Regions from separate parts of the Homo sapiens genome. Here regions 1, 2, 3, 4, 5 and 7 are each linked to region 6. The links come from fine-mapping of genetic effects on gene expression. A gene starts in region 6. Each other region holds a variant in brackets. All regions are shown on one strand. Distances are between the middles of the regions. Region 1 has its middle 28 kb from the start of ERMP1. Region 2 overlaps ERMP1 (endoplasmic reticulum metallopeptidase 1). Region 3 overlaps RIC1 (RIC1 partner of RAB6A GEF complex). Region 4 overlaps ERMP1 (endoplasmic reticulum metallopeptidase 1). Region 5 overlaps RIC1 (RIC1 partner of RAB6A GEF complex). Region 6 holds the start of ERMP1 (endoplasmic reticulum metallopeptidase 1). Region 7 overlaps BRD10 (bromodomain containing 10).

Region 1 (4,000 bases), 28 kb before region 6:
ACTTTCTCTGAATTTTTGCACTACCACAAACAGATGTTTTAGTCTCTTCCTCTTGCACATAAATCTCTGTCTGCTCCATTAACACTGCCTCATTTAAGGGAGACCATTGGATTCTGGCTTTCTTATTGCATTTTATTGGATTGTCACACAGTCTTGGTTGGGGCTCCTGGGACAAGTCCATTTATAGGACCTGAGAACCAACCCATGGCCCCAACAAGTAGACACTCCTTTGGAATGAGAACTCACCTTGGTGATCAGTTGTGGGCCTTAAGGATTAAGCCGGTTAATCAAGGATGACCCTTGATGATAATACAAGGGTTTTGGTTTAGGCACCAATGTTATGTATAAAATGAAGAAATGTGATTTTTAGCCTGACACAGTGGCTCATGCCTGTAATCCCAGCATGTTAAGAGGCTTAGGCAAAAGGACAGCCTGAGGCCAGGACTTTAAGACCAGCCTTGGCAACACAGAGACTCCATCTCTACAAAAAATAAAAAGTACAAAAAATTAAAAAATTAGCTGGGCATGGTGGCACACACTTGTAGTCCTAGCTACTTGGGAGGCTGAGGTGAGAGGATCTCTTGAATCCAGGAGTTCGAGGCTGCAATAAGCTATGATTGCACCACTGCACTCCAGTGTGGATGACAGAGTGAGACTCTGTCTCTAAAATAAATAAATAAGTAGGTCAGGCATGGTGGCTCATGTCTGTAATCCCAGCACTTTGAGAGGCTGAGGCAGGAGGATCACCTGAGGCCAGGAGTTCAAGACCAGCCTGGACAACATAGGGGGATCCCATCTCTACAAAAATAATTTAAAAATTAACCAGGCATGGTGGCACACACCTGTGGTCCCAGCTACTTGGGAGGCTGAGGTGGGAGGATCACTTGGGCCCAGGAGGTAGAGGCCGCAGTGAGCCATGATTGTGTCACTGCGCTCCAGCTGGGGTGACAGAAGGAGACCCTGTCTCAATAAATAAATACATACATACATACATACTTTTTTTAAAAAAAAAATTAAAATGTGATTTTTTAAAAAACTTTAACTTTTAAAGGACTAGTGGTTGGATTGTGTCTAGAGGGACAGCCCCTGATTATCTGACCACTTTTGGTAACAGGAGGGACTACACTCAACTGGCCCCATGAAAAGAGAAGGGCCAGGAGCCATCTCCCCAGGGTGGCCTGGAGAAACAGAATGAGCAGTCCCCCTCCCCTGATGTTGCTGTTGCACCTGCTGAGATCCTTTGACCTTGGACTATTCTTTTTCTGGGCAGACCAAAAAAAAAAAAAAAAAAAAAAAACCCTTCCTCTCTTCTCTGGGGTCAACACTAGAGCTCTGCCTGCACTGGGAAGAGAGTGGAGCCCTAGGGCCCCTTACTGGCTTAGTACTTTCCATCTCCGTCTCTTGCCAGGTTTCCAGAGGCCCTGTCTTGTGCATCTAAGTCTACAGTTAACTGTCCACTTCTTAGTGAGAAAGGAATCTGCTTTTAGTGCCATCTGTAAAAGAAGACAAATAGGTCTTTAATCAAGATTGACACACATGGCTCCTGCTTTCTCCTTGTTAAAGGTGGTACTGAATACCTCAATAAAATAGTAAAAAAAAACCCAGCAAGTATGATTTTGAAAACTCAACCCTGTACCTTGAGTAGAAAGAGTGTAGAATATATTTCCTTAAATCTTACTTTTTTTTCACCCAAATTCAGCACAGCTAAGGCCAATGATGACATCCTGGGATAATACTTTGAGTTATTAACTGATTTTTTTTCCCTCTCCAGTACTTTACTTTTTCTTAGCTTTTACACACACACACACACACACACACACACACACACACACACACACACACACCCCCTAAGCCATTGTGGGTTCACTGCCTCTCAGAAATGCAGAAACATTTTGACAGAGAGCATAGCTTCTTACTAGATCCCTGTCTCAGTCCATTTTGTGTGGCTATAACAGAATACCACAGACTGGGAAATTACAATGAACAGAAATGTATGGGCTCATAGTACTGGAGGCTGGAACTCCAATATCAAGGTGCTGGCATCTGGTGAGGGCCTTCTTGCTACATTATCACATGACAGAAGGAGAGAGAGTGAGAGAGGGTGGAGGTGGGACAGTGAAATGACCCTTTTATAGGGAACCAGCCACCATAGTAATCCATTATCATGATTACTGGGAGACTGAGGCAGGAAGATCACTTGAGACCAGGAGTTTGAGACCAGCCTGGGCAACACAGGGAGACTGTCTCTACAGTTTTTTTTTAATGAGGCCAGATATGGTTGCTTATGCCTGTAATCCCAGCACTTTGGGATGCTGAGGCAGGAGGATTGCTTGAGGCCAGGAGTTCGAGGCCAGCCTGGGCAACAGAGTGAGACCCCCCG[A/CA]TCTCTACAAAAAAAAAAAAAATTGTGGACTGAAGTTGATAAAATTGTCCTTGCAACTTTCATGGCCACTAGAGAGAGAACATGTAGTATGTCACTTGCCATTGGTTACGTTATGAGCAATTGAGCCCATACGTTATGGCTCTGAGCTTCATTCATTTACTCACTTATCCATCCATATTTATATTAATGTACAGCTGGCCAGACACTGGAGACATAAAGATGAATGGAACAGAGCTCCTGCCCTCACTGTGCTTGCTGGCAGTAAACTTCATCCCTAAAATACTGACAGTGCATTTATCCCAGTTATAAATATAAATGCTTCCTTCCTTCTTTTTTTTTTTTTTGGAAACAGGGTCTGGCTGCAGACAGTGGCACAATTACAGCTTACTGCAACCTCTATTTCCTGGGCTCAAGCAATCCTCCTGACTCAGCCTCCCAAGTAGCTGGGACTACAGGTATGCACTACCACACCTGGCTAATTAAAACTTTTTTTTTTTTTTGGTAGAGACAAGGTCTCACTATACTGCCCCGGCTGGTCTCAAACTGGGCTCAAGCAATCCTCCAGTCTTAGCCTCTCAAAGTGCTGAAATTATAGACATAAGCCACTGTGCCTGACCAATGCTTTCTTAATAAACTTAAGTTGAGCTTATTTAGCATGTAAGAATTCTTTATTAAGATATTAAAAATTCTGGTACTAAGACCTGTGTAATACAGGGGTGTGGTTTTTTCAAAGTATATCTAAGGCTGTGTTTAAATTTAGTAAATCTAAATACTTAGTAATGATACACTTGAATGTAGCTATGTAGCCTGGCACAGTGCCTGAGGAATAGCAGTCACTCAGTAAATTATAGTACGTCTCTGTAGTAAGCATCAACTATGTGCCAGGCCTTACTTGTAAGGGAATTAACATAATTCCTCATTAAGGTGAGAAACAACTTAAGGCTTTGAAATAGTTATGGGTAAGTTGGGATAGCAAATACCAAGCACATGTGCCTCTATTTTCCTTTTTCTCACCCATGACAGGCATTGTCAACTGATCACAGGTCTTTCTCATTCCCTGAACTTCGCCTCGGAACTTCTCTCCGTAAAAGATGTTGCCCACTTGCCATTTCTAGGCCAGGAGGAAGAGATTGGAACTCTGGAGAGTCTTTCTTGTTTTGTCTCAGGGTAAGGCTGCATGATTTTCAGATTAGTTATTAAATTCCTCAGAGCCTGTGTTTACTTATCTGAAACTATGGATCATAACTTTACCTAATTATCCTATATGGTTCTTGTAAGGTTTAAATGTTATGAGGGTTGGGGAAGTGCTTTGAAAGGTTAAAAGAACAAGTCACTCCCAAGAGAGTAGCAAGAGCTCCCTTTGCCAAAGTGTCTTTGCCAAGGAGAGTATTCCATTAAGTCCTGTTTAGAACAGAGAAGATCCCGTTTCAGAAGGACTTCCTGCTAAATAATTAGGAAAAGGAAAAGAAAAGAGGAAGCAAATGGAAAAGGAACACAGAGAGAGGACATGACTTGGAGTCAGAGGCATTAGAGTCAAGTCTAAATTCACCTCTTGCTAGCCGTGATGTTTGGAATAGGTTACTAAGCTACCATGCATTACATGGAGCAAACAATAGTCAC
Region 2 (4,000 bases), 49 kb after region 6:
TGTTTTCCTCTGAAACATGTCTGTTACCCCTCTCCATCTTACCAAGTTGAAAAGGGGAATATTTGGCCACATACCCCTCTGGTTTTCGTAGGTTCTTTTGGTTCAGAATATTGTTTGTGCCAGTACATGACCTTAACTTCCTTCCTCAGAGCACTGAGCTGCCATCTGGGCTATTCTGGGGTAGAAGGAAGGCTGGGAGTGGTGGGAATTTTATAAATATTTATTCTCTTTTCTTTGTTTCATAGGAGTCTTGTGTTATACAAGGTTAGTCCTTCATGGTATAATCTTACTGATGCACTGGGCCTATCTTTTTGTTTTCCAGCCAGTTGAATAGATTAGTTTTTCTCAGTAACTTACTATCCAGCAGACTGGCTTTCCTGAGACTTGAGGTTGTGGCTTATACTGGAATGAGACCACTGTACGTGTAGGTGGTTCAGATCCTGCGTAATGGCAGCATGAGGACTTAAAAGGTGGTTTTCATTTTGAAGATGGCTATGTAGCTTGTAAGGTGTATCACAGCAGTACCTCTCATGGCTTTTTGGTTCCAGCAGTGAGGGCATTGGTGAGATCAATGGTAAACTGTGCAAGCTTTCTTTTTATCATTAGGAAATGTGAAACGTTGGACAAATTTTGAGTTTTAACAAGGACAAAAAGTTGAAAGAAAAGGCACAGTTAACAAAAAAGGGTGGCTAGATTTATCTTGGGTGATGGAGGAAATGAGAGAGGAATGCTCTTGAAAGGTGGTCTGTGGATCTGTCTGAATAGAAAGAGCACAGTAAGTATGCATTGCCGGAGAAAACGTCCTTGAAGCTGCTTGTCTCATGTGTATGATGTGCTTTTTAAATCATGCCCCTCGTTGCCTGCCTAATCTGTGACTCCCTAAAAACTAACTGGGCCCATGTAGATGGGGCTGCAACCAGAGCTGAATAACATGTTAGGCTCACACATGCATCAGCACTGCACACTGGAATCATTGCTCTTCCTGGACTTTGTAGAAATCAGTCTCAAGTGCTTCAAGAGTCTGGCTCCTGCTACTTTTATCTGTCAGGTAGCACATAAGGTTTGCAGGGTTTATATTTTGTATAGAATCACAGTTGTGGAGAAAAAGTAATAATTTCTCAATGAATTTTAAAAATGGGCCTATTTTCTATCCCCGTGGTTCATCTGATATAATTAGTGTTCCCTGTGAATTCCCCCCCTCTATGGGAAGGATGCCTTTACTCTTTATCAGTAATAAATTATGACTGTTTTCATATTGCCTTAGGGTTATTTCCCTGTGTAAACCATTGTCTTTTGTTTTGGTTTTCTTTAGCATTATGAAGCTTTGGTATTGTACAAGGTCAGTAGTAAGATGCTCACTAGTCTCAGGGCTTGTGTAATATTCTGGGAGGTCATTTAAATGCCAGAAATGGTCAAGCAATTATACACAGTATTTATGACTCTGTTAAGCATACCGTTTGTCTGTCACATTAGTAGATTCTGAGATTAAAAAAAATTTTTAAAGAGTGATCATTTAAATAATTTCTAAAAGGGTCTTTTCAAGCTCTAACAAAGTCACTAACAAATGCATTATTTTCTACAGAATTAGATGTTAGTAGTACAGTACTGCATATTCAGGGAAAAAGTGTGAGGAATTGATTTCAAAATAGTTCGTTCTTGTGTTTGACCTAAGAATGATTGTCGCATGAAGTGTTTGTTTTTACAGTTTAGCATATATAAACAAACATGATAGGATTCCTTAAGATGTTA[C/AC]CACCCAGGGGGCCACAAGCCAGCCTGCTGTCTCAGGAAGCTGTAGAAGGAGTGTTTGTCAATTTCTTGTCACTGGTTTGCTGACTTACTGAGGATTAATTGTTGCCTTACAATGTTACTGAAATAAACTGTTTAATATACTGGTTGGTATCTTTTTAACTGAAAAACAGATCTGTGTTCTTCTGTATCCCCATATTTTCAAGGGTTATTCCATGTCCACAGAGCCTTTTAATTGCTGTTAAAAGACCTAGATGGCTCATGTGAGCAAAGAACTCAACATGGAAATGTTTACTTCAGTTAGAATCCTTTATCTTAGAATGAAATGGTACTTCTGAATTTCACAGAAATTATTAGGTAAATGTTGAGCTTCACCTATGTAGGAGTTTTAAATCATCCCCATTAGCAAAAAAATAGCAAAGGGTAAAGGGCGTTCTTTTATTTGGGAGTAAGGGTAGGAGGGAGGGAAGAAGTTGCCTTTCAGCCAGAGTGACTCATTGCTTATTCTAATCTCCACAGAAGGAAAGGGCACCACCACTCACCAAAATAGAGCATGAACTTTGAGTTCAGAGATCTCTGTGCAAGTTATTTAAACTTTGAGTGAATTCTCTCAGAACAGTTCAATGCAAGGTGAAGCAGCTGAACAACTTCTAACCTAATACTCCTCTTCTTCTTTTAGGGCCAATAAAGTCAAGATGCAGTTATGGCTATTTACATTTGTTTTTAGCCAAGATGCAGTTACGACTCTTTTTAAATTTTTTAAAATTATACTTTAAGTTCTGGGGTACATGTGTGGAATGTACAGGTTTGTTACATATGTATACATGTGCCATGGCAGTTTGCTGCACCCATCAACCTGTCATCTACATTAGGTATTTCTCCTAATGCTGTCCCTCCCCTAGCCCCCCACCCTCTGACAGGCTCTGGTGTGTGATGTTCCCCTCCCTGTGTCCATGTGTTCTCATTGTTCAACTCCCACTTATGAGTGAGAACATGCGGTGTTTGGCTTTCTGTTCTTGTGTTAGTTTGCTGAGAATGATGGCTTCCAGCTTCATCCATGTCCCTGCAAAGGACAGGAACTCAACCATTTTTAGGGCTGCATAGTATTCCATGGTGCATACGTGCCACATTTTCTTTATCCAGTCTATCATTGATGATGGGCATTTGGGTTGGTTCTGAGTCTTTGCTATCGTGAACAGTGCTGCAGTAAACATACATGTGCATGTGTCTTTATAGTGGAATGATTTATAGTCCTTTGGGTATATATCCAGTAATGGGATGGCTGGGTCAAATGATATTTCTAGTTCTAGATCCTTGAGGAATCGTCACACTGTCTTCCACAATGGTTGGACTAATTTACACTCCCACCAACAATGTAAAAGAGTTCCTATTTCTCCACATCCTCTTTAGCATCTGTTGTTTCCTGACTTTTTAATGATCGCCGTTCTAACTGGCGTGACATGGTATCTCATTGTAGTTTTGATTTGCATTTCTCTGACCAGTGGTGATGAGCTTATTTTTCATATGTTTGTTGGCTGCATAAATGTCTTCTTTTGAGAAGTGTCTGTTCATACCCTTTGCCCACTTTTTGATGTTTTTTTTTTTTCTTGTAAGTTTAAGTTCTTTGTAGATTCTGGTATTAGCCCTTTGTCAGATGGATAGATTGCAAAAATTTTCTCCCATTCTGTAGGTTGCCCGTTCACTCTGATGTTAGTTTCTTTTGCTGTGCGGAAGCTCTTTAATTAGATCCCATTTGTCTATTTTGGCTTCTGTTGCCATTGCTTTTGGTGTTTTAGTCATGAAGTCTTTGCCCATGCCTGTGTCCTGAATGGTATTGCCTAGGTTTTCTTCTAGGGTTTTTATGTCTTACGTTTAAGTCTTTAATCCATCTTGAGTTAATTTTTGTATAAGGTGTAAGGAAGGGATCCAGTGTCAGCTTTCTGCACATGGCTAGCTAGTTTTCCCAACACCATTTATTAAATAGGGAATCCCTTCCCCATTCTTTGTTTTTGTCAGGTTTGTCAAAGATCAGATGGTTGTAGATGTGTGGTATTATTTCTGAGGTCTCTGTTCTGTTTCACTGGTCTATATATCTTGTTTTGGTACCAGTACCATGCTGTTTTTGTTACTGTGGCCTTGTAGTATAGTTTGAAGTCAGTAGCGTGATGTCTCCAGCACTGTTCTTTTTGCTTAGGATTGTCTTGGCTATGTGGGCTCTTTTTTGGTTCCATATGAACTTTAAAGTAGTTATTCA
Region 3 (4,000 bases), 98 kb after region 6:
TGAAGACCTTTAAGATGATCCACTTCCACTTAATCAATAGTAAGTACATTATTTCTTCCTTATAATTTTCTTAATAATCTTTTCTCTTACTTTATTGTAAGAATACAATATATAATATTAATATATATAAAATAAAAAGTATGTGTTAATTGACTATATTGTCAGTAAGGTTTCCAGTCAACAGTATGCTATTAGTAGTTAAAAGTCTTGGGCGAGTCAAAAGTTATATGTAAATTTTTCAACTGTGTTGGGGGGTTGGTACCTCTAACCCCTGGGCTGTTCAACGGTCAACAGTATATACGTTTAAGATATAAAACATGTGTGTGTGTAAAAGCATAGTAAATATAAACATACATATTTGATATATATATAGTAGATATACAGTATTAATAGTAAATATATTTGTGGTAAAAATACAACAAAGAGTTAATGTATACAAATTTCAGATTAGTGATACTCTGGTGGAGAAGGGAGTATCAAAGAAGAGGGGTAAACAGGAGGCTTCATCAGCACTGGTGATGTATTATTTCTTATGTTGGATGGTAATTTATAAACATTTTATTTTTAAAATCTATATGCTTTTTTGTGTATATGGTATATATAATTACTTAATTTAAAACATCTTTACAAGGGTCAAATTTCTGAAGGGCCTGAAGCCAGAAGTAAAATCTCTATAATACGTCTAAGCCACATTTCAAAATTGAACTACGAGGATAACAGAAAAGTCTCATTTCTGCTCATGGTATATTCTCAGTTCAAAAATTTAATGCACATTCAGCATTTGAAAATGAGGCTCCTGTTTTAGATTACTTATGCAACATTTATAGTGAGAAAGAGAAACAAATGTTCTTAAAGACACTTTTTAATATAAGAATGCTTTTGCACATAATAGGATGACACTGGTTTATGACTACCAGATTGTTTTTTTTTTTTTTGGTGGTAGGAGAAATCAGATGGTTTCTTCACAGCAGCTTTGATCCATTCCCATCCAGGTCCTACCTCTTCTCAAGGATTAGAACTGGGACTAACTAAAAGACCTGCAATAGTAGCCTCCTTAAAGTTGTCCCACAGCTTACTGATACTCTGTTTTTGTTTTCTTTTTTTTCTGTGTTCCATTTTGGATAATTTCTGTTTTTCAAGTTCATTAATCTTCTCTTCTGCAATGTCTAATCTGTTGTTAGTTCCATACAGTATGTTTTTCATCTCAGACATCATAGTTTTCACCTCTAGAAGTTTAATTTCAGTCTTTTTCTAATATCTTCCATGTCTCAGTTTAATATTCAAGAGAGACCCTCTACAGCTCTCTGAAGTTCTCTCTTTGTGCCACCTCTTTGGTGTCTATATTATGAACTCTAGCTGCCTTGGTTTTCCCAGATTCTCTGATTTCCATGTGCTTATCTCAGCTCAGGATGTATCTCCCCAATCCTGTGCTGCAGCCTACAAACACTCAAAATAATAAAAACTAAGGGCAGTTACAGAGAGATAATTTTGTTTCTCATCTTTCAGAAATCACTGTCCCTTGTTACCTTATGTTTGTGTTCTGAATTCAAAACAGCTCTTTCATATTTTTGTCCGTTTTCTTGGCTGTATCAGGTGGGAGGGAAAATGTCATCTGTCATTCAATCATACCCAGAAGCCAAATATCTGAAAAAGATTTCTTTCCAGACTACCTGCCCAAATAGATCAACTCTTGCTGAGAGACAGCACTAAGTGGGTAGCAGGTGTTTGTTTTTGCTTTGCATCTGACAACTGTCAACTGCTAACCCTGGGTTGCTGAGCTCTAAAATGTTAGTGAGGAGTCCATGTTTTAAATATAAGAAGTAGGTGCTAAGTTACTACTTATAAAAGTCTGACAATCTTTTAGGTATTCTATAGTGCTTGTATTCTTTAAACTACTTTTCCTTCCATTTCTCACCAGCCCAATGTAACAGAAAAATATATTTTCATTAAAAAGACAGGACTTACTAACTCCAAAGCAAATCTCTATAAGAGAGATATGACTATT[A/G]TCACCATAAGTGATCAAATTTAGTGTCATTAATACTGAAACAACTTGACATTATTACTAAATGATACCATAGGAAATATATATCATCACCCATGACAAAATGTGTAACCAGAATCTAGTAATACCTTTAAATATTTAGGTTAACAGGAAGGTTGTTAAAATACTGATCTGCTGCAAACTGGCATCCTAAAAGGAAGCTGGCTTCTTACACAACTCTAAGGACACCAGCTATCACCTAGTGTTCAAGGTAATTAGTCCTGATAAGTGTTGGCAGATCTGGACTAGCAGACACTGGTTTGTTATGTCAACAGCTAGAATCACAAAACTTTAACCCTAACCCATGGGCATGCTAGAAGAGAACTTGTAGTCTCGTAGCTGATGAAAACTGAGGTGACTGAAAAGCTATAGGCCAAGAGTCTACCTACATTATCCTGGGAAGGGCTAGTACTTCCCAATCATGTAGCTTATAAGCCCATAGCCTAGGGAGGAGTACTTCTTCTGGATTCTAACACCCACCCTTGTGCTGGCCCCAAATGCAGTAAATGGAACTGCACACTTGCCACTGCTTCTGTCTCTGTGTATTTTCTCTAAATACTTTTCCATGCCTGATGTGTGGGCTTTCTAGTCACTTGACTGTATTGCTCAACAAGAACTAGCTTCCAGGTTAGTCACGACAGGTGTCAGATAAACAAGGTAAATGCCATCATGAGGAAACAATAAGGCAAATCTAGGATGCAGGATATTCTATAAAGAATCGACTCAGACTCAAAAAAAGTCAATGTCATGAAAATAAGTGGCATAAGGACTATTGTAGTTAAAAGGTAACTAAAGAGAAATAATAACCAAATATTATTAATGAATCTTGATCGATTCTGTTTGGAACAAAGGAGCTATAGAAGAAATTTAGCTGGTGGCAACTGGGTTAATTTGCATATAAATTGGGTATTAGATCCTATTAGGGATTTATCATTAATTATCTCATGTGATAAAGATATTCCAATTATACAAGAGAATGTCTCCTTTTTTAGAAACCAAGAAATAAGGCAAAAGTATGTCAACAGCAAAGTGGATAAATTATGCTATATTCAGACAATGGAACGTTATTTATAAACCAATTTAAAAAATGATTACAACTACTGGTAAATGACATGGATGAATCTCACAATGTTGACCAGTTACTAAGTGAGTCAAGGAGGGAATAAGAGTTGTGACTAGGAAGTAGCAGAGGCAGTTTGTGACTGGAGACCAGTAATGTTCTATTTACTGATCCAGTTGTGAAGAGATGGGTGTTTCTACTACAACGTTAAAACTATGAATATCTGGATTATGTACTACTTTGTATGCATATTTTTGTTTCACAATGTGAAATAAAAAGGGTATTATAAACTTTATGCCAGTAAGTTTGAAGGTGTATAAGAAAGAAACCAATTCCTGGAAAAAATGCAACTTGCCAAAATGACATAGGAAGAGATACAAAATCTGAATCTTCTTAAATCTATTTTTAAAACTGGGCCGGGCCCAGTGGCTCACACCTGTAATCACAGCACTTTGGGAGGCCGAGGTGGATGGATCACGAGGTCAGGAGTTTGAGACCAGACTGACCAACACAGTGAAACTCCGTTCTACTAAAAATACAAAAATTAGCCGGGCATGGTGGTGCATGCCTGCAATCCGAGCTACTCAGGATGCTAAGACAGGAGAATCACTTGAACCCAGGAGGCAGAGGTTGCGGTGAGCCAAGATCACGCTCTTGCACTCTAGCCAGGGCGACAGAGCGAGACTGTCTCAAAAAATAAAATAAAATAAAATAAATATATATATATATTTAAAATATATATTATATATATTTATAATATTTAAATATATATATCTAAAATATATACATTATATATATGTATATTTTTAAAAACTGAATTGAATCAGTAGTCCAAAAAAATCCACAATAAGAAAATTCTAGGTCTAGATGGCTTCTCATTGGCAAATTCTACCAAACAT
Region 4 (4,000 bases), 29 kb after region 6:
TCCCAGTGCTTTGGGAGGCTGAGGTGGGAAGACTGCTTGAGGCCAGGTGTTTGAGACCAGGCTGAGCAACATGGCAAGACCCTGTCTCTGCCAAAAAAAAAATGTTTTTTTTAAACTTTGCTGGGTGTAGTGGTGTGTGCCTATAGTCCCAGTTACTTCAGGAGGCTGAGGCAGAAGAATCACTTGAGCCCAGGAGGCTGAGACTGCAGTGGGCCGAGATCGCACCACTGGACTCCGGCCTAGGCGACAGAGCGAGAACCTGTCTCAAAAAAAAAAAAAAAAAGTTTATATGGCAACTTTATTTTGAAGAGTGCAAGGTGCTACATAGGAACCCTTGGACTTTAAATCTCAAAAACTGTAAGATCAAATTTTATAATAGGAAATCATGAGGAATACAAGAAGGGGGCAAAGGTGCAGTACAAGACCAACTGGAGATAGAAAAAACTCATGAAAATAAGCCAAACTCCAGATTGCTTTAAAGGTGCTGCAGTTTTCCAGATGTGGGTTATTGGTGGTGCTGCAGCAGTTCCTAACGTTCCTTCACAGGTCATTTCTCTAGTTTGCTTGAAACAGTGTTTGGAATTGGCATGAACTGAAAAGCTTACAGAGATGATTGTTTTTTAGGAGAGTCCTTTCTTCTATTTTGGAAAATTTCTACTTTTAGCCTAGTAGAAGAAAAGCATAGAGTACATGGAGCATTTATACTCTATATTGTTAAAATGCCCTTTCTTGTGCTACATTTGAATTTACTACTTCATGATGGGGGAGGTAGCTTTGTTAGTGTTTACTTTAAATCAGTTTAAAGAGCAGACTGTGTTTAAAACAAAATGTAGCTTTCCTGAGTGATGGAAAGTGTGTTACTATAATAAAAGCTCTTTATGCATGACCCCTGAATGAGACTACTTGTATATTTTTCTTTCTTTCAGAATGCCAGTGCCCAGTATCTGGGAGAAGTATTTTTTGACATTTCGCTGTTTGTCCATTGCTGTTTTCTTGTTACCCTCACTTACCAAGGACTTTGCTCGGCGTTTATTAGTGCTGTCTGGGTAGCATTCCCATTGCTCACAAAGCTCTGTGTGCATAAGGACTTCAAGCAGCATGGTAGGGTATTTTTGATTTTGATATACATGGGAGAATACCTTAAAATACTTAAGGCTTTCAGGGACTCTTTCTTTTTTGGTTTTATTGGGTAGGCTTTCTAAATTGTTAGTTTTTAAAAGTTTTCATACCACACAAATTATCTTATGCCTTATACTCCATCCCTTTCTCATGTTTGTGAACACATACTAATATATTACTTGTGTATTTTGCTTTATTCTTATTTGTATTTTATCCTGAGTGAAAGATCCTACTCCAAGATAACATACACCCTTAAGGGCAAGAGTCACATCTAACCTAATTTCTGTTAGGGTACCAAGGCACACCAGTACTATAAAAATTTATATCTCACTGGAGGATTTCATAGATGTGTGCTTTTTTTCTCTTTTTCCCTAGGTGCCCAAGGAAAATTTATTGCTTTTTACCTTTTGGGGATGTTTATTCCTTATCTTTATGCATTGTACCTCATCTGGGCAGTATTTGAGATGTTTACCCCTATCCTCGGGAGAAGTGGTTCTGAAATCCCACCTGATGTTGTGCTGGCATCCATTTTGGCTGGCTGTACAATGATTCTCTCGTCCTATTTTGTAAGAGAAAATAAGTTTTTTTCTTTTTCTTCATTTTTTATATGAATATGAATTTAGCCATACTAGATTCTGTGAAATAGTGTTACGTGTACTTTATTGAGAAAATCTGAAGCAGAAGAAATGGTGAATGAATGGCCATGCATCTTGTAAATTTGGTATCGTAAGAAACTGTAGTATAGAGTTTGTTGTTGCTGTTTAAAAGTTTTTTGCCTCCCTATCCTTCCAAATTCTCTGATTTACCTCTTTTCAAATAGCCTGTCAGATACCTGAGTGTGAATTTGTAGAGCGTTTACCAAGTATTAATTGTTAGAGATTGCCTGGTGGTGAATGATCCTAATAGTATATTTTGAAATTACTAATTAGA[G/A]GCACATGTTAATAGATACATGGGTGGTTTTATTAGTGCTTTTAGAGCTAGTGAAGGAAGACTAAATCTGATGAGGCTTTTTTCATTATCATTCCACTACCTTGTTGCTACCACATGAAAGCTTGTTAATTGAGTCTGTTATGACACCCAAACGTGCCTTCATTTACCAAATAATGAAATGATCACAGGCCTTGTCAGTCCTCATTTTGCCGTATCAGTGTCCTGCCCTAGTAAGGAGAGTCCTGTGTTTGCCATCCCTTTTTTTCTTCCCTTGGGATTCCCAGAGGGAAGAAAAGACAGTGATGCAGAGTTTAAGACCAGACCCCCCTTGAGCAGAGTAAGCCCCAAGCAAGGTTTTGCTTTGGTTTGATGTCCACCTCCACGATCCAAGATGGGCCCCTCCAGAGAATGCAGGTCTCTTTTGGTGGGAATTCCTAAGAATAAAAAGTAATTATTGAACACTCAGAGGTGCACCTTGAAATTTGAGGATAGGGAACCAAACAGGAAAAGGAGCTATGATTTTATTATAGTTCTTTTCTTCATGGAGATGATAGTGAGCCTTTTCATACTGATATAGTAAAGGGCATTCGTTACCCCTTTACTTTGTGGAAGTTAGGTTCTAAAGACAGCAGGTAAGGAAAACACTACACACATGGTCAGCATCATCCGTGGAAGTCCCTTATAGCCAGTAAAGCTCTATATATGTGACTTTGTGTATATAGTCCTGTAGAGTAATTCTTATGCATATTATTGTTTGAGGTTGGTTGTACTAGTCTTAAAAGAGATCTGAGCCTTCCAACCATTTTACTTATAGGATAATTATTAAGGATAATATAAGGATAAGGATAATCCTTATTGGTATTCATAGGGCTGTATGAAAAGTTCTAAAATGTTCTTTGCTGCCTGTAGGGTTTGCTGCTTTTGAGTTTAATAGTAACCCTTATATCATCTGTATTTTTGATAGGTTTGCTGTTGTAAGGATTGAAGGAGACAGTGGACTTTTGTTATCTATAGATTAGGTTCTAATCTAATCTGAAGTCAACTAGTTATGAACTGAATGCCCCCACACCCCCGTTTATTTGTTAAATTATAGTCATGAATGGGAGCTATGGATGTCCATAAAAGATGACTCAGATAGGGGACATTTAAATTCTGTTCCACTGATAATATGAAAGGGGGCAAAATGAACCCTGGAGATGTTCATTGTGGAAATGGAAAATGTCCCCAAAGCATGGAAATCTTGGAAACCAGAAGAAAGAGGATTAAAGTGTCTTATCATCTAAATTATATTTTATTGGGAAAGCTTTTGGAGAGAAGACTGCCTCTTGGAATACTTTAGAAAGCTCACTTATTTTTCATTATAATGTGAAATAGCCCTGCCGCACTTTGATGCCATGAGTTATCACTCTTTTAATTATTTTCTTACTTATGTGTAGCAGTGTTAATGATAGTGGCTTATTAATAGAGTAAGACTGTTTTCTTTGGGTAATGGAGAATTGAACCACAATGCATATTTCAGACAGCTTTCCCTTCAGTCCTTGGGGATTTATTAAATACATCTGCTAGAAAGCAATTAAAGTCTTGTCAAGCAATCACGGTTTTTTGTTTGTTTGTTTGTTTGTTTGTTTTTGAGACAGAGTCTCGCTCTGTCACTCAGGCTGGAGTGCAGTGGTGTAATCTCGGCTCCCTGCAACCACCGCCTCCTGGGTTCAAGCAATTCTCGTGCCTCGGCCTTCCTGAAATATTGCATCCTGTGTCACTCTAGGTTCTGAGATGGGTGCAAAATAAAATGAAGAGAAGCATGAAAAGGGACTCTGAAATGTCCATTGTGTGCTGATAACTGAGCTGTTTCTGAGTCTTCTCCTCCTGACCCCACTTGTATCAGCAGTCCCCATTTCCCCTGTCATTCAATCAGTATACGTATAACCATGAAGGTCCAGCAGAGAATAAC
Region 5 (4,000 bases), 85 kb after region 6:
CCCATATGTCAACAAATGACTTCAAAAGTTTTAAAACTTATAGGTAAGAAAAAACTTTTTAAAAAGCACCTTGGCTGGTGCTTGCTGGTGCTTGCTTTGGCTGGGTGCGGTGGCTCACGCCTGTAATCCCAGTACTTTGGGAGGCTGAGGCAGGTGGATCACAAGGTCAGGAGTTTGAGACCAGCCTGGCCAACATGGTGAAACCCCGTCTCTACTAAAAATACAAAAATTAGCCGGGCATGGTGGCAGGTGCCTGTAATCCCAGCTACTTGGGAGGCTGAGACAGCAGAATCGCTTGAACCCTGGAGGTGGAGGTTGCAGTGAGCTGAGATCACGCCACTGCACTCCAGCCTGGGCAACAAAGAACAAAATTCAATCTCAAAAAAAAAAAAAAAAAAAAAAAAAAAAAAGCACCGCCTTTACTGCCAGTTACCAATCCTGCTTCTGACAAGTATGTATTTGTTTTGTTTTAGTTAAAGAAAAATCATAAGTAACATAGAATCTTCCAATCTGGAAGCTAAGGAGTATAAGGTAGCAGGTTTAAGCAAACAAACAAAAAGCTAGTACTCTAAATGAGAAACAGAACAAGCAGCAGAATTAGTTGGAGTTCATCTAAGCTATACAAGAAGCATACATACAACGAATAAATCACGCAAACAAAATCAACTTTGACAGAGGATGTGGTCACTTATCTTAGAAAAAAGGATACTATTGTGGGGCAAATTAAACCAGGCAACTATGTTTCTTCAGGGAGTCATCATAAATGGCTAAAAAGCCTAGAACGTAAAAGTTTAGCATTATATAGACACTGTATACTGCCCTATACACCGCCACCATAACTGCACTGAATCATGTAGCTGGAGTGCCAGCGAAATACAGGGCAACTCCAAGTACAAACTGCCAAATAGGCGAATTCTAAGTTTTAGCTCAAGGTCAGTGGTGTATTATGTGATTTAATGCTCAGTACCTCGGTTTTAAAATACATTAGATTTTTACTTTAACGTAGAGTGATGATAAAGATAAGTCTGCCACTACTCTGCTGGGTGAACTGGACAAGTCATATAACTTCTCTGATCCTCAGTTTCCTCATGTATCAAATCCAGTTGGACTTTATGATCTCTTAGGTCCTTCCAGCTTGAAAAATTCTATGAGCCCATTTTCATTGTTTCAGCAGTACAAAACAATCAATGTGGCATTATTTATGTTATTTTTAAGGAAACTGATAAACTAGGTAAACTCAAGTTTTAAAAGTTCATCTGTCTAAATATCTTTAGCTATCTAAAGAACAGAATAACAGTGGAATCTTGCTAGTACCCAAAGTCCTAAAATCAGTGTTAAAATGTTTCTCTTATATGGGGTACTTCATAGATGCTTAAGAATCACAGAATCACTGAGTTTTTGAGCTGGAAGGAAATTCAATTTTTGTTATTGCCTGATCGATTTTTTAGTTCCAGACCTACCTTCTTTGATCCTCTGCTCTACTTGGCTCTCTGGTAACACAGACCTGGCTAGGCAGAACTGGCATTGATGCTAGGTCAGTGTAGAATGAATAGTTCAAAGTATGGGGAAATGAAAATAGCAGAGAAATGGCTATAGGAGAGAAGGGAGCAGTGGAAAATTTTAGTCAAGGAAGTAGCTAGTGCAGTTTTATTTAAAAATTGTTACTAATTATAAAATGGTATGTACATTGTTTGATTCTATGAATTTATTAATGTAAGTTAAGTTCATTTTCTTTTAGTGTATACCAGATGTCAATGTAGGAGATAATCCTTCAACCTTTCACATGACCATTTTTTTGTCTCTCATTATCTTCACTCAAAGTCAACTGAAAATAACATGGGAGCTGAAGTAGGCTAGTAGGGTAAACATATAGAGAGTCAAAGTAAGGCAAAGAATTATGGAAACAGAAACTGACTAAAAGAAACTAAGAGTGGGCTTTGATGTACCTAAAATATTTTGCTATCAAAAAGGGAAAGAAAACAGTCGGAAGACTGAAATTATGTATGCAAGTTTCTTTTAAGAAACTTCAACTTACTGGTTTCCCCAAAATAATTTTACTTGGTATCAAAATTGAGAATTAATTTCCATGTTAAATGTCAGTTTATCAGAATTACTGTGAGACACTGTTAATTTAAAAGTGATATCAGAATGAATAAATAATTTGGAATAAGATTAGCTAATAAAAGTATTAACAATAAAGCTCTCTACTGATCACAAGTCTGCAATTTGGGTCCAAAGTCACATGATTAACCTCAACGTGGCCCCTTAAGACTGTAAGGTCAGCTGTACAGAGTACTAGCTGATGTTGCCACTTTCCATGAGATTATTACACTTTGTTTTGCCTGTGCAAATCCGTAGAGCTAAATTTATA[C/T]AAAAAAAGAGGCTGAAAGTAAAATAAATAGTTCTCAATGAGAAGGCAAAACATAAACTTCTAGTTCTTGACATTATTAATAGACTTGAAACAGGTGGGGATACACTCTACGCCAAGTGGAAAGAAAGGAGGGAGAAGACTAGAGGACAAGAACACAGAAAAGCAGAAGAGGGACATGACAAAATGGTTAAAAGGATTCTCAGTTGCCTGAAGTTAACAGATGAAATATTTAATAATCTGTTCCAGGTGATATCCTATCAAAGAATAAGTCTCTAGTAATCAGTAACTAAAGATTTACCTGTACAACATGCCAATGCCGATGTCCAAGTAAAGTGCTTAATCCCTGAGACTCTAAACCTCCATCTGCAAATGGGCTCTTTTCTCGACTGGGCTTATGCTCAGAGTGTGTTGAAGAACTCCTGGGATTCTGGGTTTGTGAAGCCTCTCCACAGTTCAAGTACAAGCGATCCTCACCCTGAAGCAACACCTGCTCTTGGTTACTCTAAATGAGGGAAAGAGGAACAAAAGGGCAAAGGAGGAAAACAAATAAAAACAACTCAATATTACGCAGGCAAAAATAACACATCGATTTAGTTTTATTATAGGAAATGTACATGTATCTCGATGTTGATTTTCTTCACAGAGGACAAAGACTACACAATAATCTCATGCACTGTTATAATTAGAAAGAATAGTGCTCTTAGTGACTATGAGATTTCAGCTAGAAAGCCAGTGTTCTCAAAGGTGAGTAGACTCATTAACTATTGAAATCAGACAAAGTAGCACCCTACCCTTGTCATTTTTCCATTTTAGTCCAAATGCTGGCTTGACATAAAACTCAAGGGTGCTTTTAAATTATTATTTGGGATGGGGAAGGGGAGGGAGAAATGCTCTCTTCTTTTCTGGGGATCCTTAGTCTTCAAGTGGAATAATGGATCTGAAATTCAGGCTATTTTCACATTTTTTATGGATGTTCGTAAATTTTAATTAGAAATTTGTTGTACCAAATATCCATTAAAAAGCCATTGATGGTAGGTATTAAGATACACATTTCTAACATGTAACATATACCATTACTGTATATTAGCGATATATAATAATATTAGTATACACTATTTCAGATAGAAATACAAGAGGCAGTGTTTGGGGCGGTGTTTCTAAAAGCAAGTCCTCAGACATACTTTCTTTAAGCTATTTCTTAAAAATTCACAGTTAAATAAGCATGGGGAACACTGTTTTTAATATACCACCTCCTGGATTTTCATGATGCACAATGGCATATTTAAGCCTCTGGAGCCCTACAATCAATCTCTACAATTTTGTTTTACCTTTATTTGACACTTATATGGAAACAAAACTTTTAAAAAATCCTGTGGAACTGCTACTAATATCTCTCATAAGTAGTGCCTGGAGGAACACACTTTGGGAAATGCTATTCAGATAAAGACTAAATTACTCAAATTATTTAAATAAATATATAAACATTGCTTTCCGTCAAATTGCTTATGACCCTTTTAAAAAAATAAGACCAAAGAAACACAACCCGTTGAGAAATAAAATTTTGGTATAAATTTAATATAAATTAAAAAGAAACACAAGAATCATAGAAAAGAAGATAATATGCCAATT
Region 6 (4,000 bases):
GTCTCAATTTCCCTGCTTTATTTTTCTTTATGGCACTTAACTCTCTGACATTTTATACACACACACACATGCGCGCGCGCGTTCATTGTCTCTTTGTTAGAATGTAAGCTCTCTGAAGGTAGAAACATTGATTTGTTCTTCTCTGTTTCTCCACCTTAATCAGTATCTGACACAAGTAGATATCCAACAACTAGTAGCTAAAAATATTCAAACGTGAATACCGTAGACTATACAAGTATAGAGAAAAACTGCCTTTCAGGAACTCAGCTGTAACTTAACTCCTACCACCTAGAGTTCTATGATTATCATGATAGGAAAGTAGCTTTTAATCTAATCTACAAAGGATTTCATGAGAAGGAAAATTCTGAAAAATAGTTTTTAATGAGAATCTTATGTGAGGATCTTTCACACACACACACACACACACACACACACACACACACACACACACACATCTATCTATCCATCTATCATCTGTCTATCTATCTAATCCTCACTGAAGCCCCTTAAGGCAGGTATCATCTGCATTACCACAGATAAATACACGTGGACTCTGTGAGATTGTAACTTGAATAATGCCATGTGTACTAAAGGTACCAGATCCAGGAACTCAGATCTACCCGTCCCCAACAGCCAGGCAGCCAGGCATTTCCCTATTATGGTACCATGGGATATTGTCAGACATACACACACACACACACACACACACACACACACACACACACACATATATACATACATATAGTTATGACCATGGGCTAGGCTCTTATCCAGAGCTAAGCACTATGGATACAGTGATGATTAAATAAGATAGACACTGTCTTTAGTCTCATAGTGCTTACAGACTGAAAGGGATCTTGTAGAGCTAAAATTATGCTTGCTGCCACAAAAGTGGTATGTTTTCATTTTTTCATTCACTCAAGAAATATCTATTGACTACATACTATGTGTCATGCTTTGTGTTAAGAGCAAGGAATAAAATGGTGAGTAAAACCAGACCTGATTCCTGCCTTCGTGGGGCTTACAGTCTAATGAGGAAGTTATGAAATAGTCACATGCAAACATGGTGCTGTGAGATCCTACAAATAGGGGAAGCAAGCTTAATTAAATTAGGAGATTCTTGCTTGAGGAAGTACCACTTAATCTGAGATTTAAAGGATAACTAGGAGTTAAAAAGACAATGAGGAGAGAGAAGAACACTCCAGGTAATTCAAACAGCATGTGAGAAGATCCTATTGTAGAAGGAAAGATGCGTGCAGGAAGTCTTTGAAAGAGGCCAGTGTGGCTGGAGAGCTGGAAATAAGAAGCATCCTGGTGTCAGAGGAGCCTGAGAGGTGGGCAAGAGCAGGACTATAGGGCATTGTATGAAATCTGACATATGTGCTAAGTCAAAATCCGGCAGTGTGCTCTCCCAGTTGGTCTCTAGGTTAATGCTCATGCTAATGTAGCAACTCCAAGCTAGGGACAAAAAACCTTGGAGCAGAGAGGCTCATGGGTACCGGCAAGCTGGAAGAAGACTAGATAATCACTAGGATCTGCACTGAAACCAAGGCTCTGCTGCTTAACCGCCCCAGAGAGTCGTCAAGTGAAGAATGGCCTTTCTGAACCTTCACTTGCAGAGTGCTAATGTAGTAGTGGAACAGAATGCTGTTTTGGGAGCCCATGAAATTAGATTTACATTCTTCATCTGTTATCTCTACGTTTCTCAGGTTATAAAATGGGAACAAAGATATTTCCTTTTAAGTATTGTTAAAGATAATTAAATAAGATGATGTATTAAAGGACTTGACCTAGCGCTTAGCTCATAGCAGGTATTCAATAAATAATAGCCATTATTTTTCTTTATCTGTTAAATGGAGACAGTAATAGCACAGATTAAGTTGCTGAGTTATGAAGATCTGATTAGATTATGCATGTGAAAGCAATAGGCCGGGCCTCCTCTGCGTAATCTTATTTCTAATTTTAAGAGCCAGGAACCCACTTTTTTGGAGCCTGATGTTCTAATATTCCTTCCTTACGAAAGCCAGGTCATTGCTTTTTTCATCTGCCTGATGCACTGTAAGAGCCTTGTGTGTTCTTTCAAAAGCGATCTCTCATTTTTCTCGTTTTGGGTTTTTAGGTGTCTTTACATTTGGCAATCTCCGTCCTACAGAGGGCTGGAAAAGCCCTGCGGGAGACGGCATATCCACCACCCGCTGCTGGGTCGGCCCTGCAGCTGTGTGCACCCGAGAACTGCCAAAGAAGCTGGGTCTTGGCGCGGCGGGACGGGCCAATCAGAAGAAGTTTGGCCCTCTGCAGTTTCCGTCCGCTCACTAGGAGGCGCTGCGGCAGCGACGGCGGCGTCGGCGGCGGCCGGGGCTGTCGCGGGTTGGGGCGGTTGGGCTGGCAGCTGAGGCTCGTGGCCATGGAGTGGGGTTCTGAGTCGGCTGCTGTGAGGCGGCACCGCGTCGGAGTAGAGCGTCGAGAGGGAGCGGCGGCCGCGCCACCGCCGGAGAGGGAGGCCCGAGCGCAGGAGCCTCTGGTGGATGGGTGCAGCGGCGGCGGGAGGACGCGGAAGAGGAGCCCCGGGGGTAGCGGCGGCGCGAGCAGGGGCGCGGGGACCGGGCTGTCTGAGGTGCGCGCCGCGCTGGGGCTCGCGCTCTACCTGATCGCGCTGCGGACGCTGGTGCAGCTCTCGCTGCAGCAGCTCGTGCTACGCGGGGCCGCTGGACACCGCGGGGAGTTCGACGCGCTCCAAGCCAGGTACCGGCCGCTCCCTCCTGGCACGGCCCGCGCGTCCGTTTGCGGCTCCTGCGCAGGCTCCGGGGCACCGCACCTGTGTGCACCCGCCCCTGCCGGACCGCTGGGACTCGCTGACCCCTCCCAGGCTGCACGTGGGGTGGGGTGACCTTGCTTGTCCTTCTTCTGGGGTCTGAATTGCCGGGACTTGGGGCTTGCCTGTCCCCGGTTAAGCTCGTGGTGCAGATTGGGGTTGCCAGGTAGATTGAACCTGCTTTCCACTGTCTGCCCTTCGTGCAGATGGTTGGTTGTGAGTCGTCTCCCCATATTCTGGAACAGCTTCCCCTTTTTACCTTGCTTAGCCCTTCTGCTTTCCAGATGGAAATTTGTGTACCTAGACTGTTGTATAAATTCGCTTTGGGGGCGGGGAGTTTTGGAAGGCGCTAGTGCACTGTTCTAACTTTCTGAGGGTTACAGCCCCCACATCTGAAGGCTATAGAAACTCTTTCTGGAACACCGCCCAGTCAAAATTTGGTATGCAGTCTGATAAATTCTCAGATCCCTGCAGTTTATCTTTAGGCCCCTTGGATTAGTGACTGTGTAAGGTTTGACTTTTTTTTTTTTTTTTAAGACCTTTAAGAATGCTAGGAAAGGTGATTAAGTCAAAGATATTGTAACCCAGGTGTGTCAAAGCTCATGAAGTGTTAAGCTGGCGTCAAGTTTTCAACAGCTACTGTGTTCTAAAAAGTTTTTGCTAGAATGCAAAGTGTTGCAAGCTTATTAAGGACTTTCTGAAACGTCTCCCACCCCCACTTCCAGCTTTCCCCACTTGGAATGCAGTGAAAAGACAAAAACAGTTTTGTTTTCATTAGGGGTACAGTTGGTTTTGGCCTGAATTGAAGTTATTAGACCTTGGGTGTATGCTAGGAGGGCTAGGTCCATCAAAAGTTTCCCCCGCCCGCCTTATTTAACCTCTTGACTTGATTATTTTTGCTCATTGGTTTCTGCTACTTAAAGTCATTAACCCAGAATCTGTAACGTTCAGGAGTATGCACAGTGAAGTTATATTCTATCCTGCTTAGTCTTTAGCTTTTTTTGTTTGTTTTCTGAGACAGGGCCTGGCTCTGTCGCCCAGGCTGGAGTGCAGTGGCTCCATCTCGGGTCTGTAGCCTCCACCTCCCAGGTTCAAGCAGTCCTCCCACCTCAGCCTCTTGAGTAGCTGGGACTACAGGCGGATAGTAGTCTACATCTGGCTAGTTTTTGTAGTTTTAGAAGAGATGGG
Region 7 (4,000 bases), 95 kb before region 6:
TATCTCAAAGCCATTACAAAAAAAAAACCCAACATGATTATGTAACAGTAGGTGATGGTAATAATAAGTATATACTGTGGCTTAGCAGCTATAAATTTATTGTTCCTATGTTATTCAAATAATTTTATATATACAGGTGAGGTGTATCTTCTAGAGGTTTCTATAGCCTGTGTCAGATTGAATTCATGTGATGTACTTTTTAAGAGGTAGTGATGTGGTTCTAAGAGCTTGGACTTCAGAATCAGGCAGATACGGGTTTAAGTTATAGGACCTTAAGCAAGTCATTTAATCTCTATGAGCCTTATTTTCATCATTTGTAAAGTGAACATAACAATGCACACATCTCAGAAGGCTTTTTGTAAATGCTAGAGCTCTCTCTAGATATATATATATGTGAAATACCTAGGTTAAAACTTAGCAAATTGAGAGGACATCAGTAATTATTAACTCTTAGTATAGCATTAGGGTATTGAAAACAGTAACTGCTTGGTTGCTTTTCTGGGCTAGAAACATTGTAAAATAAAATAATTGTAAAATTTCCTAGGAAGTTTGTTAAAAAGACTGCTTTTAGACATGATAACAAACCTACCTTTTCTCCCTTTTCCCCAGTCTTTGGGAAAGTTACAGTAACTTTACTGAAATGACCCATGTCATACTTACTTAATGAATTTATATAAATGTTTGTGTTTTTACATATATTTAACAAATGATTTATTAAAACATTTACAATTGATGCAATTTTAAAACATTTTTAAAATTTTTATCTTCCAGTTGGATGAAACAGGTTTCAGATTTCTCTGGTAGAATTGAGAATTGTTACATATATTGAATAAAATTTATTACAGGATATTTTCCCCCTTTCTGCAAGCTTCTGAAGAAGAAATACGTTTTTATGGAGTATTGGTGTTTTTGTATTTTACTCAGAAAATAAGTTTTGACATTTACTTTTAGAATAAATCTAAGGGATTTACTTTAAACATTATTTTTAGGGAAAATGGTATCATCGGAGGCAAGCTGTAAAAGAATTACATAGTACATTGATACGTCTTTTAAATGAATTGCTGCCATGGGAACCAAAGTTAATGAAGGCTTTCCAAAGAAACAGGTAATTTTAATGTTATAATCTGTTTTACTTATTTTATGGTCCTTAATTTACGATTTTTGGATGATGTCCTGGAATCATTTAGTAGTTTTCCAGTCATTTGTAATTCGGCAGATATTTTTGACTGCCCACTGTGTGCAAGGCTCTTTCTAAGCCCTGAGAAAATATTGTTGACTAAACAAAGTCTCCACTCTGTGACTTACATTCTCATGGAAAAAAACACACTCAAATGTCAGATGGCAAAAAAAAGTGCTGTGAAGAAAAATAAAGCAAGGTAAGGGGGTTAAGAAATGGCTGATTTGGGCAGGGTGAAGGTTACTCTTTGATCAGGTGTCAGGGAAAGCTTCCCTGATGAGTTGGTGTTTGAACAGAGACCTTAAAGAAATGAGGAAGGGAGCTCTGTGGATTTCTGAGGGGAAAGCAGAGGGAATAGAAGGTACTAAAGCCCTAGAGTTGATAGCATGTTTGGCGTTTAGTGGAGATGCAAAGAGGCAAGTGTAACCAGAGCAGAGCGAGTGAAGAGAAATGTGGTAACAGGCAAGAGTCAGAGAGGTAAGGAGGAAGGAAGCCAGATCATGTAGATCTTTAAGAATTGGAGTTTTTACACTGAGT[T/G]AGGTGAGAAGCCATTGAAGGGTTTTAAGCAGGGAAGGGACATGATTTGATTTATGTTTTAAAGCAATCACTCTGTTGGGTGGAGATAAATGTAATAGGACAAAGATGAAAGCAGGGAAACCAGTATACTATAGCAGTAATCCAGGAGAAAAATGGTAGAGGCTTGGACTAGGATAGTAGCAGTGCAGATACCAAGGAGTGGCTGGATTCTGGATATACCTTGAAAGTAGGATTGGTAGAATTTGCTTAAGGATTGGATATGTGGAGTATGAGAGAAAGTGAGGAATGAAAAAGATGATACCCACTATTTTTGGTCTAAACAACTGGAATAATGGAATTGCCATTAACTGAGATAGGGGAAACTCAAGGAGTAGCAAATTTGAGAGGTAGAGGGGATTGAAGAGTTGGATTTGAACATGTTAACTTTGATATGCTCTTTAGACATATAATTGGTGTTATTGAATAAGCAGTTCAGTATAGGAGTCTGAGTTCAAGGGAGTCTGGAGGTACAAATTTGGGAGCTGTCAGCATCTTGATTGTATTTAAAGACATAAGGCTGGTAGAAATCACTTAGTATATGAGCATAGATAGAGAAGAAAAGAAAAGCGAGCATTAGACCTTCCAGCATGTAGAAGTGGCCAAGATGAGTAGGACTCAGTAGAAGAGACTTTGAAGGAGTGCTCAGTAAAACAGGAAGATAGTCAAGGAAGAGAAGTGTTTTGGAAACCAGGTAAAGAAAATGTTTCATAAAGGAGGGCTGCTCATGATGGGTTGAGGAAATGAGAAATAAGAATTTATTATTTAATTTGGCAACATGAGGATCATATTAATGACCTTGGTGAGCTGTGGTAGTAGAAGAGTGGATAAAAGTCTTAGAAGTCTATTCAGGAGAATTAGGGGAGAGAAATGGAAGAGTCCTCTTTCATGGAGTTTTGCTATAAGGTGGAATAGAGAAATGGAGCAGTATCTGGAAGGAAAAGAGGTTAAGAGAGTGTGTTTTGTTGTTGTCGTTTGTGTGATAGAATAACATGTTTGTGTACTGATGGAAATGATTTAGTAGACAAAAAATGGATTCAGGTAAAGGAAGGGACATTTGGTAGAGTGTTATCCTTGATTAGGTAAGAGGATGCATTTAAATGGAGGTGTTAGCTTAGGTAGGGAGATGGAGAATAGGAATATACATTAAGGTGAGTTGCAGATGAGGTGTGAGCATGTGAAAGTTCTCTTCTGATTGCCTCCATTTTTCTTGAAATAAGAAGTAAAGCCATTAACTGAGACCGAGAAGGTTACTGAGAGTGAGAAGGGAGGAGAACTTTATACTATCCCCACATAGATATTTTTTCATTCCAATCTTATAGATTGAAAGGGAAATTCATTTTATGATTATCATTTGGTAACCCATTCTAATACCTTTCACAGCCCTCATGTGCTTCCATAAAACCCTTAACAATAATTGAAAACCTACATAAACTGAAAGCAATTATTAACTAACATTTGTTGAATATTTATGTGCCACACGTACTGAGAGGTAAGTACTATTATTATTCTCATTTGTAATAAGTAAACTGATGCTTAGAAAATTAAGGAATTTTAATGTTTTGGAAATTAAGGAATTTTAATGTTTTAAAAATTAAAAGCCACTTTGGGAGGCCGAGGCAGGCAGATCACGAGGTCAGGAGATCAAGACCATCCTGGCTAACATGATGAAACCCCGTCTCTACTAAAAACACAAAAAATTAGCCGGGTGTGGTGGCGGGCACCTGTAGTCCCAGCTACTCAGGAGGCTGAAGCAGGAGAATGGCATGAACCCAGGAGGCGGAGCTTGCAGTGAGCTGTGATCGCGCCACTGCACTCTGGCCTGGGCAACAGAGTGAGACTCCGTCTCAAAAAAAATAAATAAATAAAAAATTTAAAGCCTGGGCAATATGGTGCAACTGTGTCTGTACAAAAAATACAAACATTAGCCAGGTATGGTGGTGCATGCCTGTGGTCCCAGCTACTCAGGAGGCTGAGGTGGGTGCATTGCTTGATCCTGGGAGGTGGAGGTTACAGTGAGCCAAGATTGTGCCACTTGTACTCCAGCCTGGCGACAAAGCGAGACCCTGTCTCAAAAAACTAAGTTAAAATTGAAAGTCTTACAACTGGTAAGTGACAGAGGTAGGACTTAAAATCTAATGTGCACAAATAAGAATGTATAGCAAAAATAAATTGGAGAACATGGCCAGGCGCAGTGATTCACGCCTGTAATCCCAGCACTTTAGGAGGCCAAGGTGGGCAGATCACGAG

Evidence for each region.
Region 1: its variant is fine-mapped to the expression of ERMP1 in esophagus mucosa (GTEx, PIP above 0.99).
Region 2: its variant is fine-mapped to the expression of ERMP1 in atrial appendage (GTEx, PIP 0.99).
Region 3: its variant is fine-mapped to the expression of ERMP1 in lung (TOPMed, PIP 0.97).
Region 4: its variant is fine-mapped to the expression of ERMP1 in whole blood (TOPMed, PIP above 0.99).
Region 5: its variant is fine-mapped to the expression of ERMP1 in whole blood (TOPMed, PIP above 0.99).
Region 7: its variant is fine-mapped to the expression of ERMP1 in esophagus mucosa (GTEx, PIP 0.97).

Annotation. Positions count from the first base shown.
Region 1 is chr9:5,859,015-5,863,014 of GRCh38, reverse strand. It overlaps a transcript of ERMP1 not described here. Among named protein-coding and RNA genes, the nearest start is that of ERMP1, 28 kb to the right of the region's middle. The variant A/CA (reference allele first, on the strand shown) is at 2,381.
Region 2 is chr9:5,782,461-5,786,460 of GRCh38, reverse strand. It overlaps ERMP1 (endoplasmic reticulum metallopeptidase 1), which reads left to right. Exons shown (of 15, transcript NM_024896.3): 15 at 1-1,889. Among named protein-coding and RNA genes, the nearest start is that of ERMP1, 49 kb to the left of the region's middle. The variant C/AC (reference allele first, on the strand shown) is at 1,750.
Region 3 is chr9:5,733,919-5,737,918 of GRCh38, reverse strand. The region is part of intron 7 of RIC1 (RIC1 partner of RAB6A GEF complex); the gene reads right to left. Among named protein-coding and RNA genes, the nearest start is that of ERMP1, 97 kb to the left of the region's middle. The variant A/G (reference allele first, on the strand shown) is at 2,006.
Region 4 is chr9:5,802,712-5,806,711 of GRCh38, reverse strand. ERMP1 (endoplasmic reticulum metallopeptidase 1) reads left to right here. Exons shown (of 15, transcript NM_024896.3): 9 at 927-1,101; 10 at 1,495-1,685. Among named protein-coding and RNA genes, the nearest start is that of ERMP1, 28 kb to the left of the region's middle. The variant G/A (reference allele first, on the strand shown) is at 2,050.
Region 5 is chr9:5,746,175-5,750,174 of GRCh38, reverse strand. RIC1 (RIC1 partner of RAB6A GEF complex) reads right to left here. Exons shown (of 26, transcript NM_020829.4): 12 at 2,670-2,873. Among named protein-coding and RNA genes, the nearest start is that of ERMP1, 85 kb to the left of the region's middle. The variant C/T (reference allele first, on the strand shown) is at 2,372.
Region 6 is chr9:5,831,432-5,835,431 of GRCh38, reverse strand. It overlaps ERMP1 (endoplasmic reticulum metallopeptidase 1), which reads left to right and starts at 2,315. Exons shown (of 15, transcript NM_024896.3): 1 at 2,315-2,742. The coding sequence starts at 2,405. RefSeq lists silencers at 2,229-2,448, 2,529-2,748.
Region 7 is chr9:5,926,149-5,930,148 of GRCh38, reverse strand. BRD10 (bromodomain containing 10) reads left to right here. Exons shown (of 8, transcript NM_001017969.3): 6 at 990-1,105. Among named protein-coding and RNA genes, the nearest start is that of MLANA, 37 kb to the right of the region's middle. The variant T/G (reference allele first, on the strand shown) is at 1,715.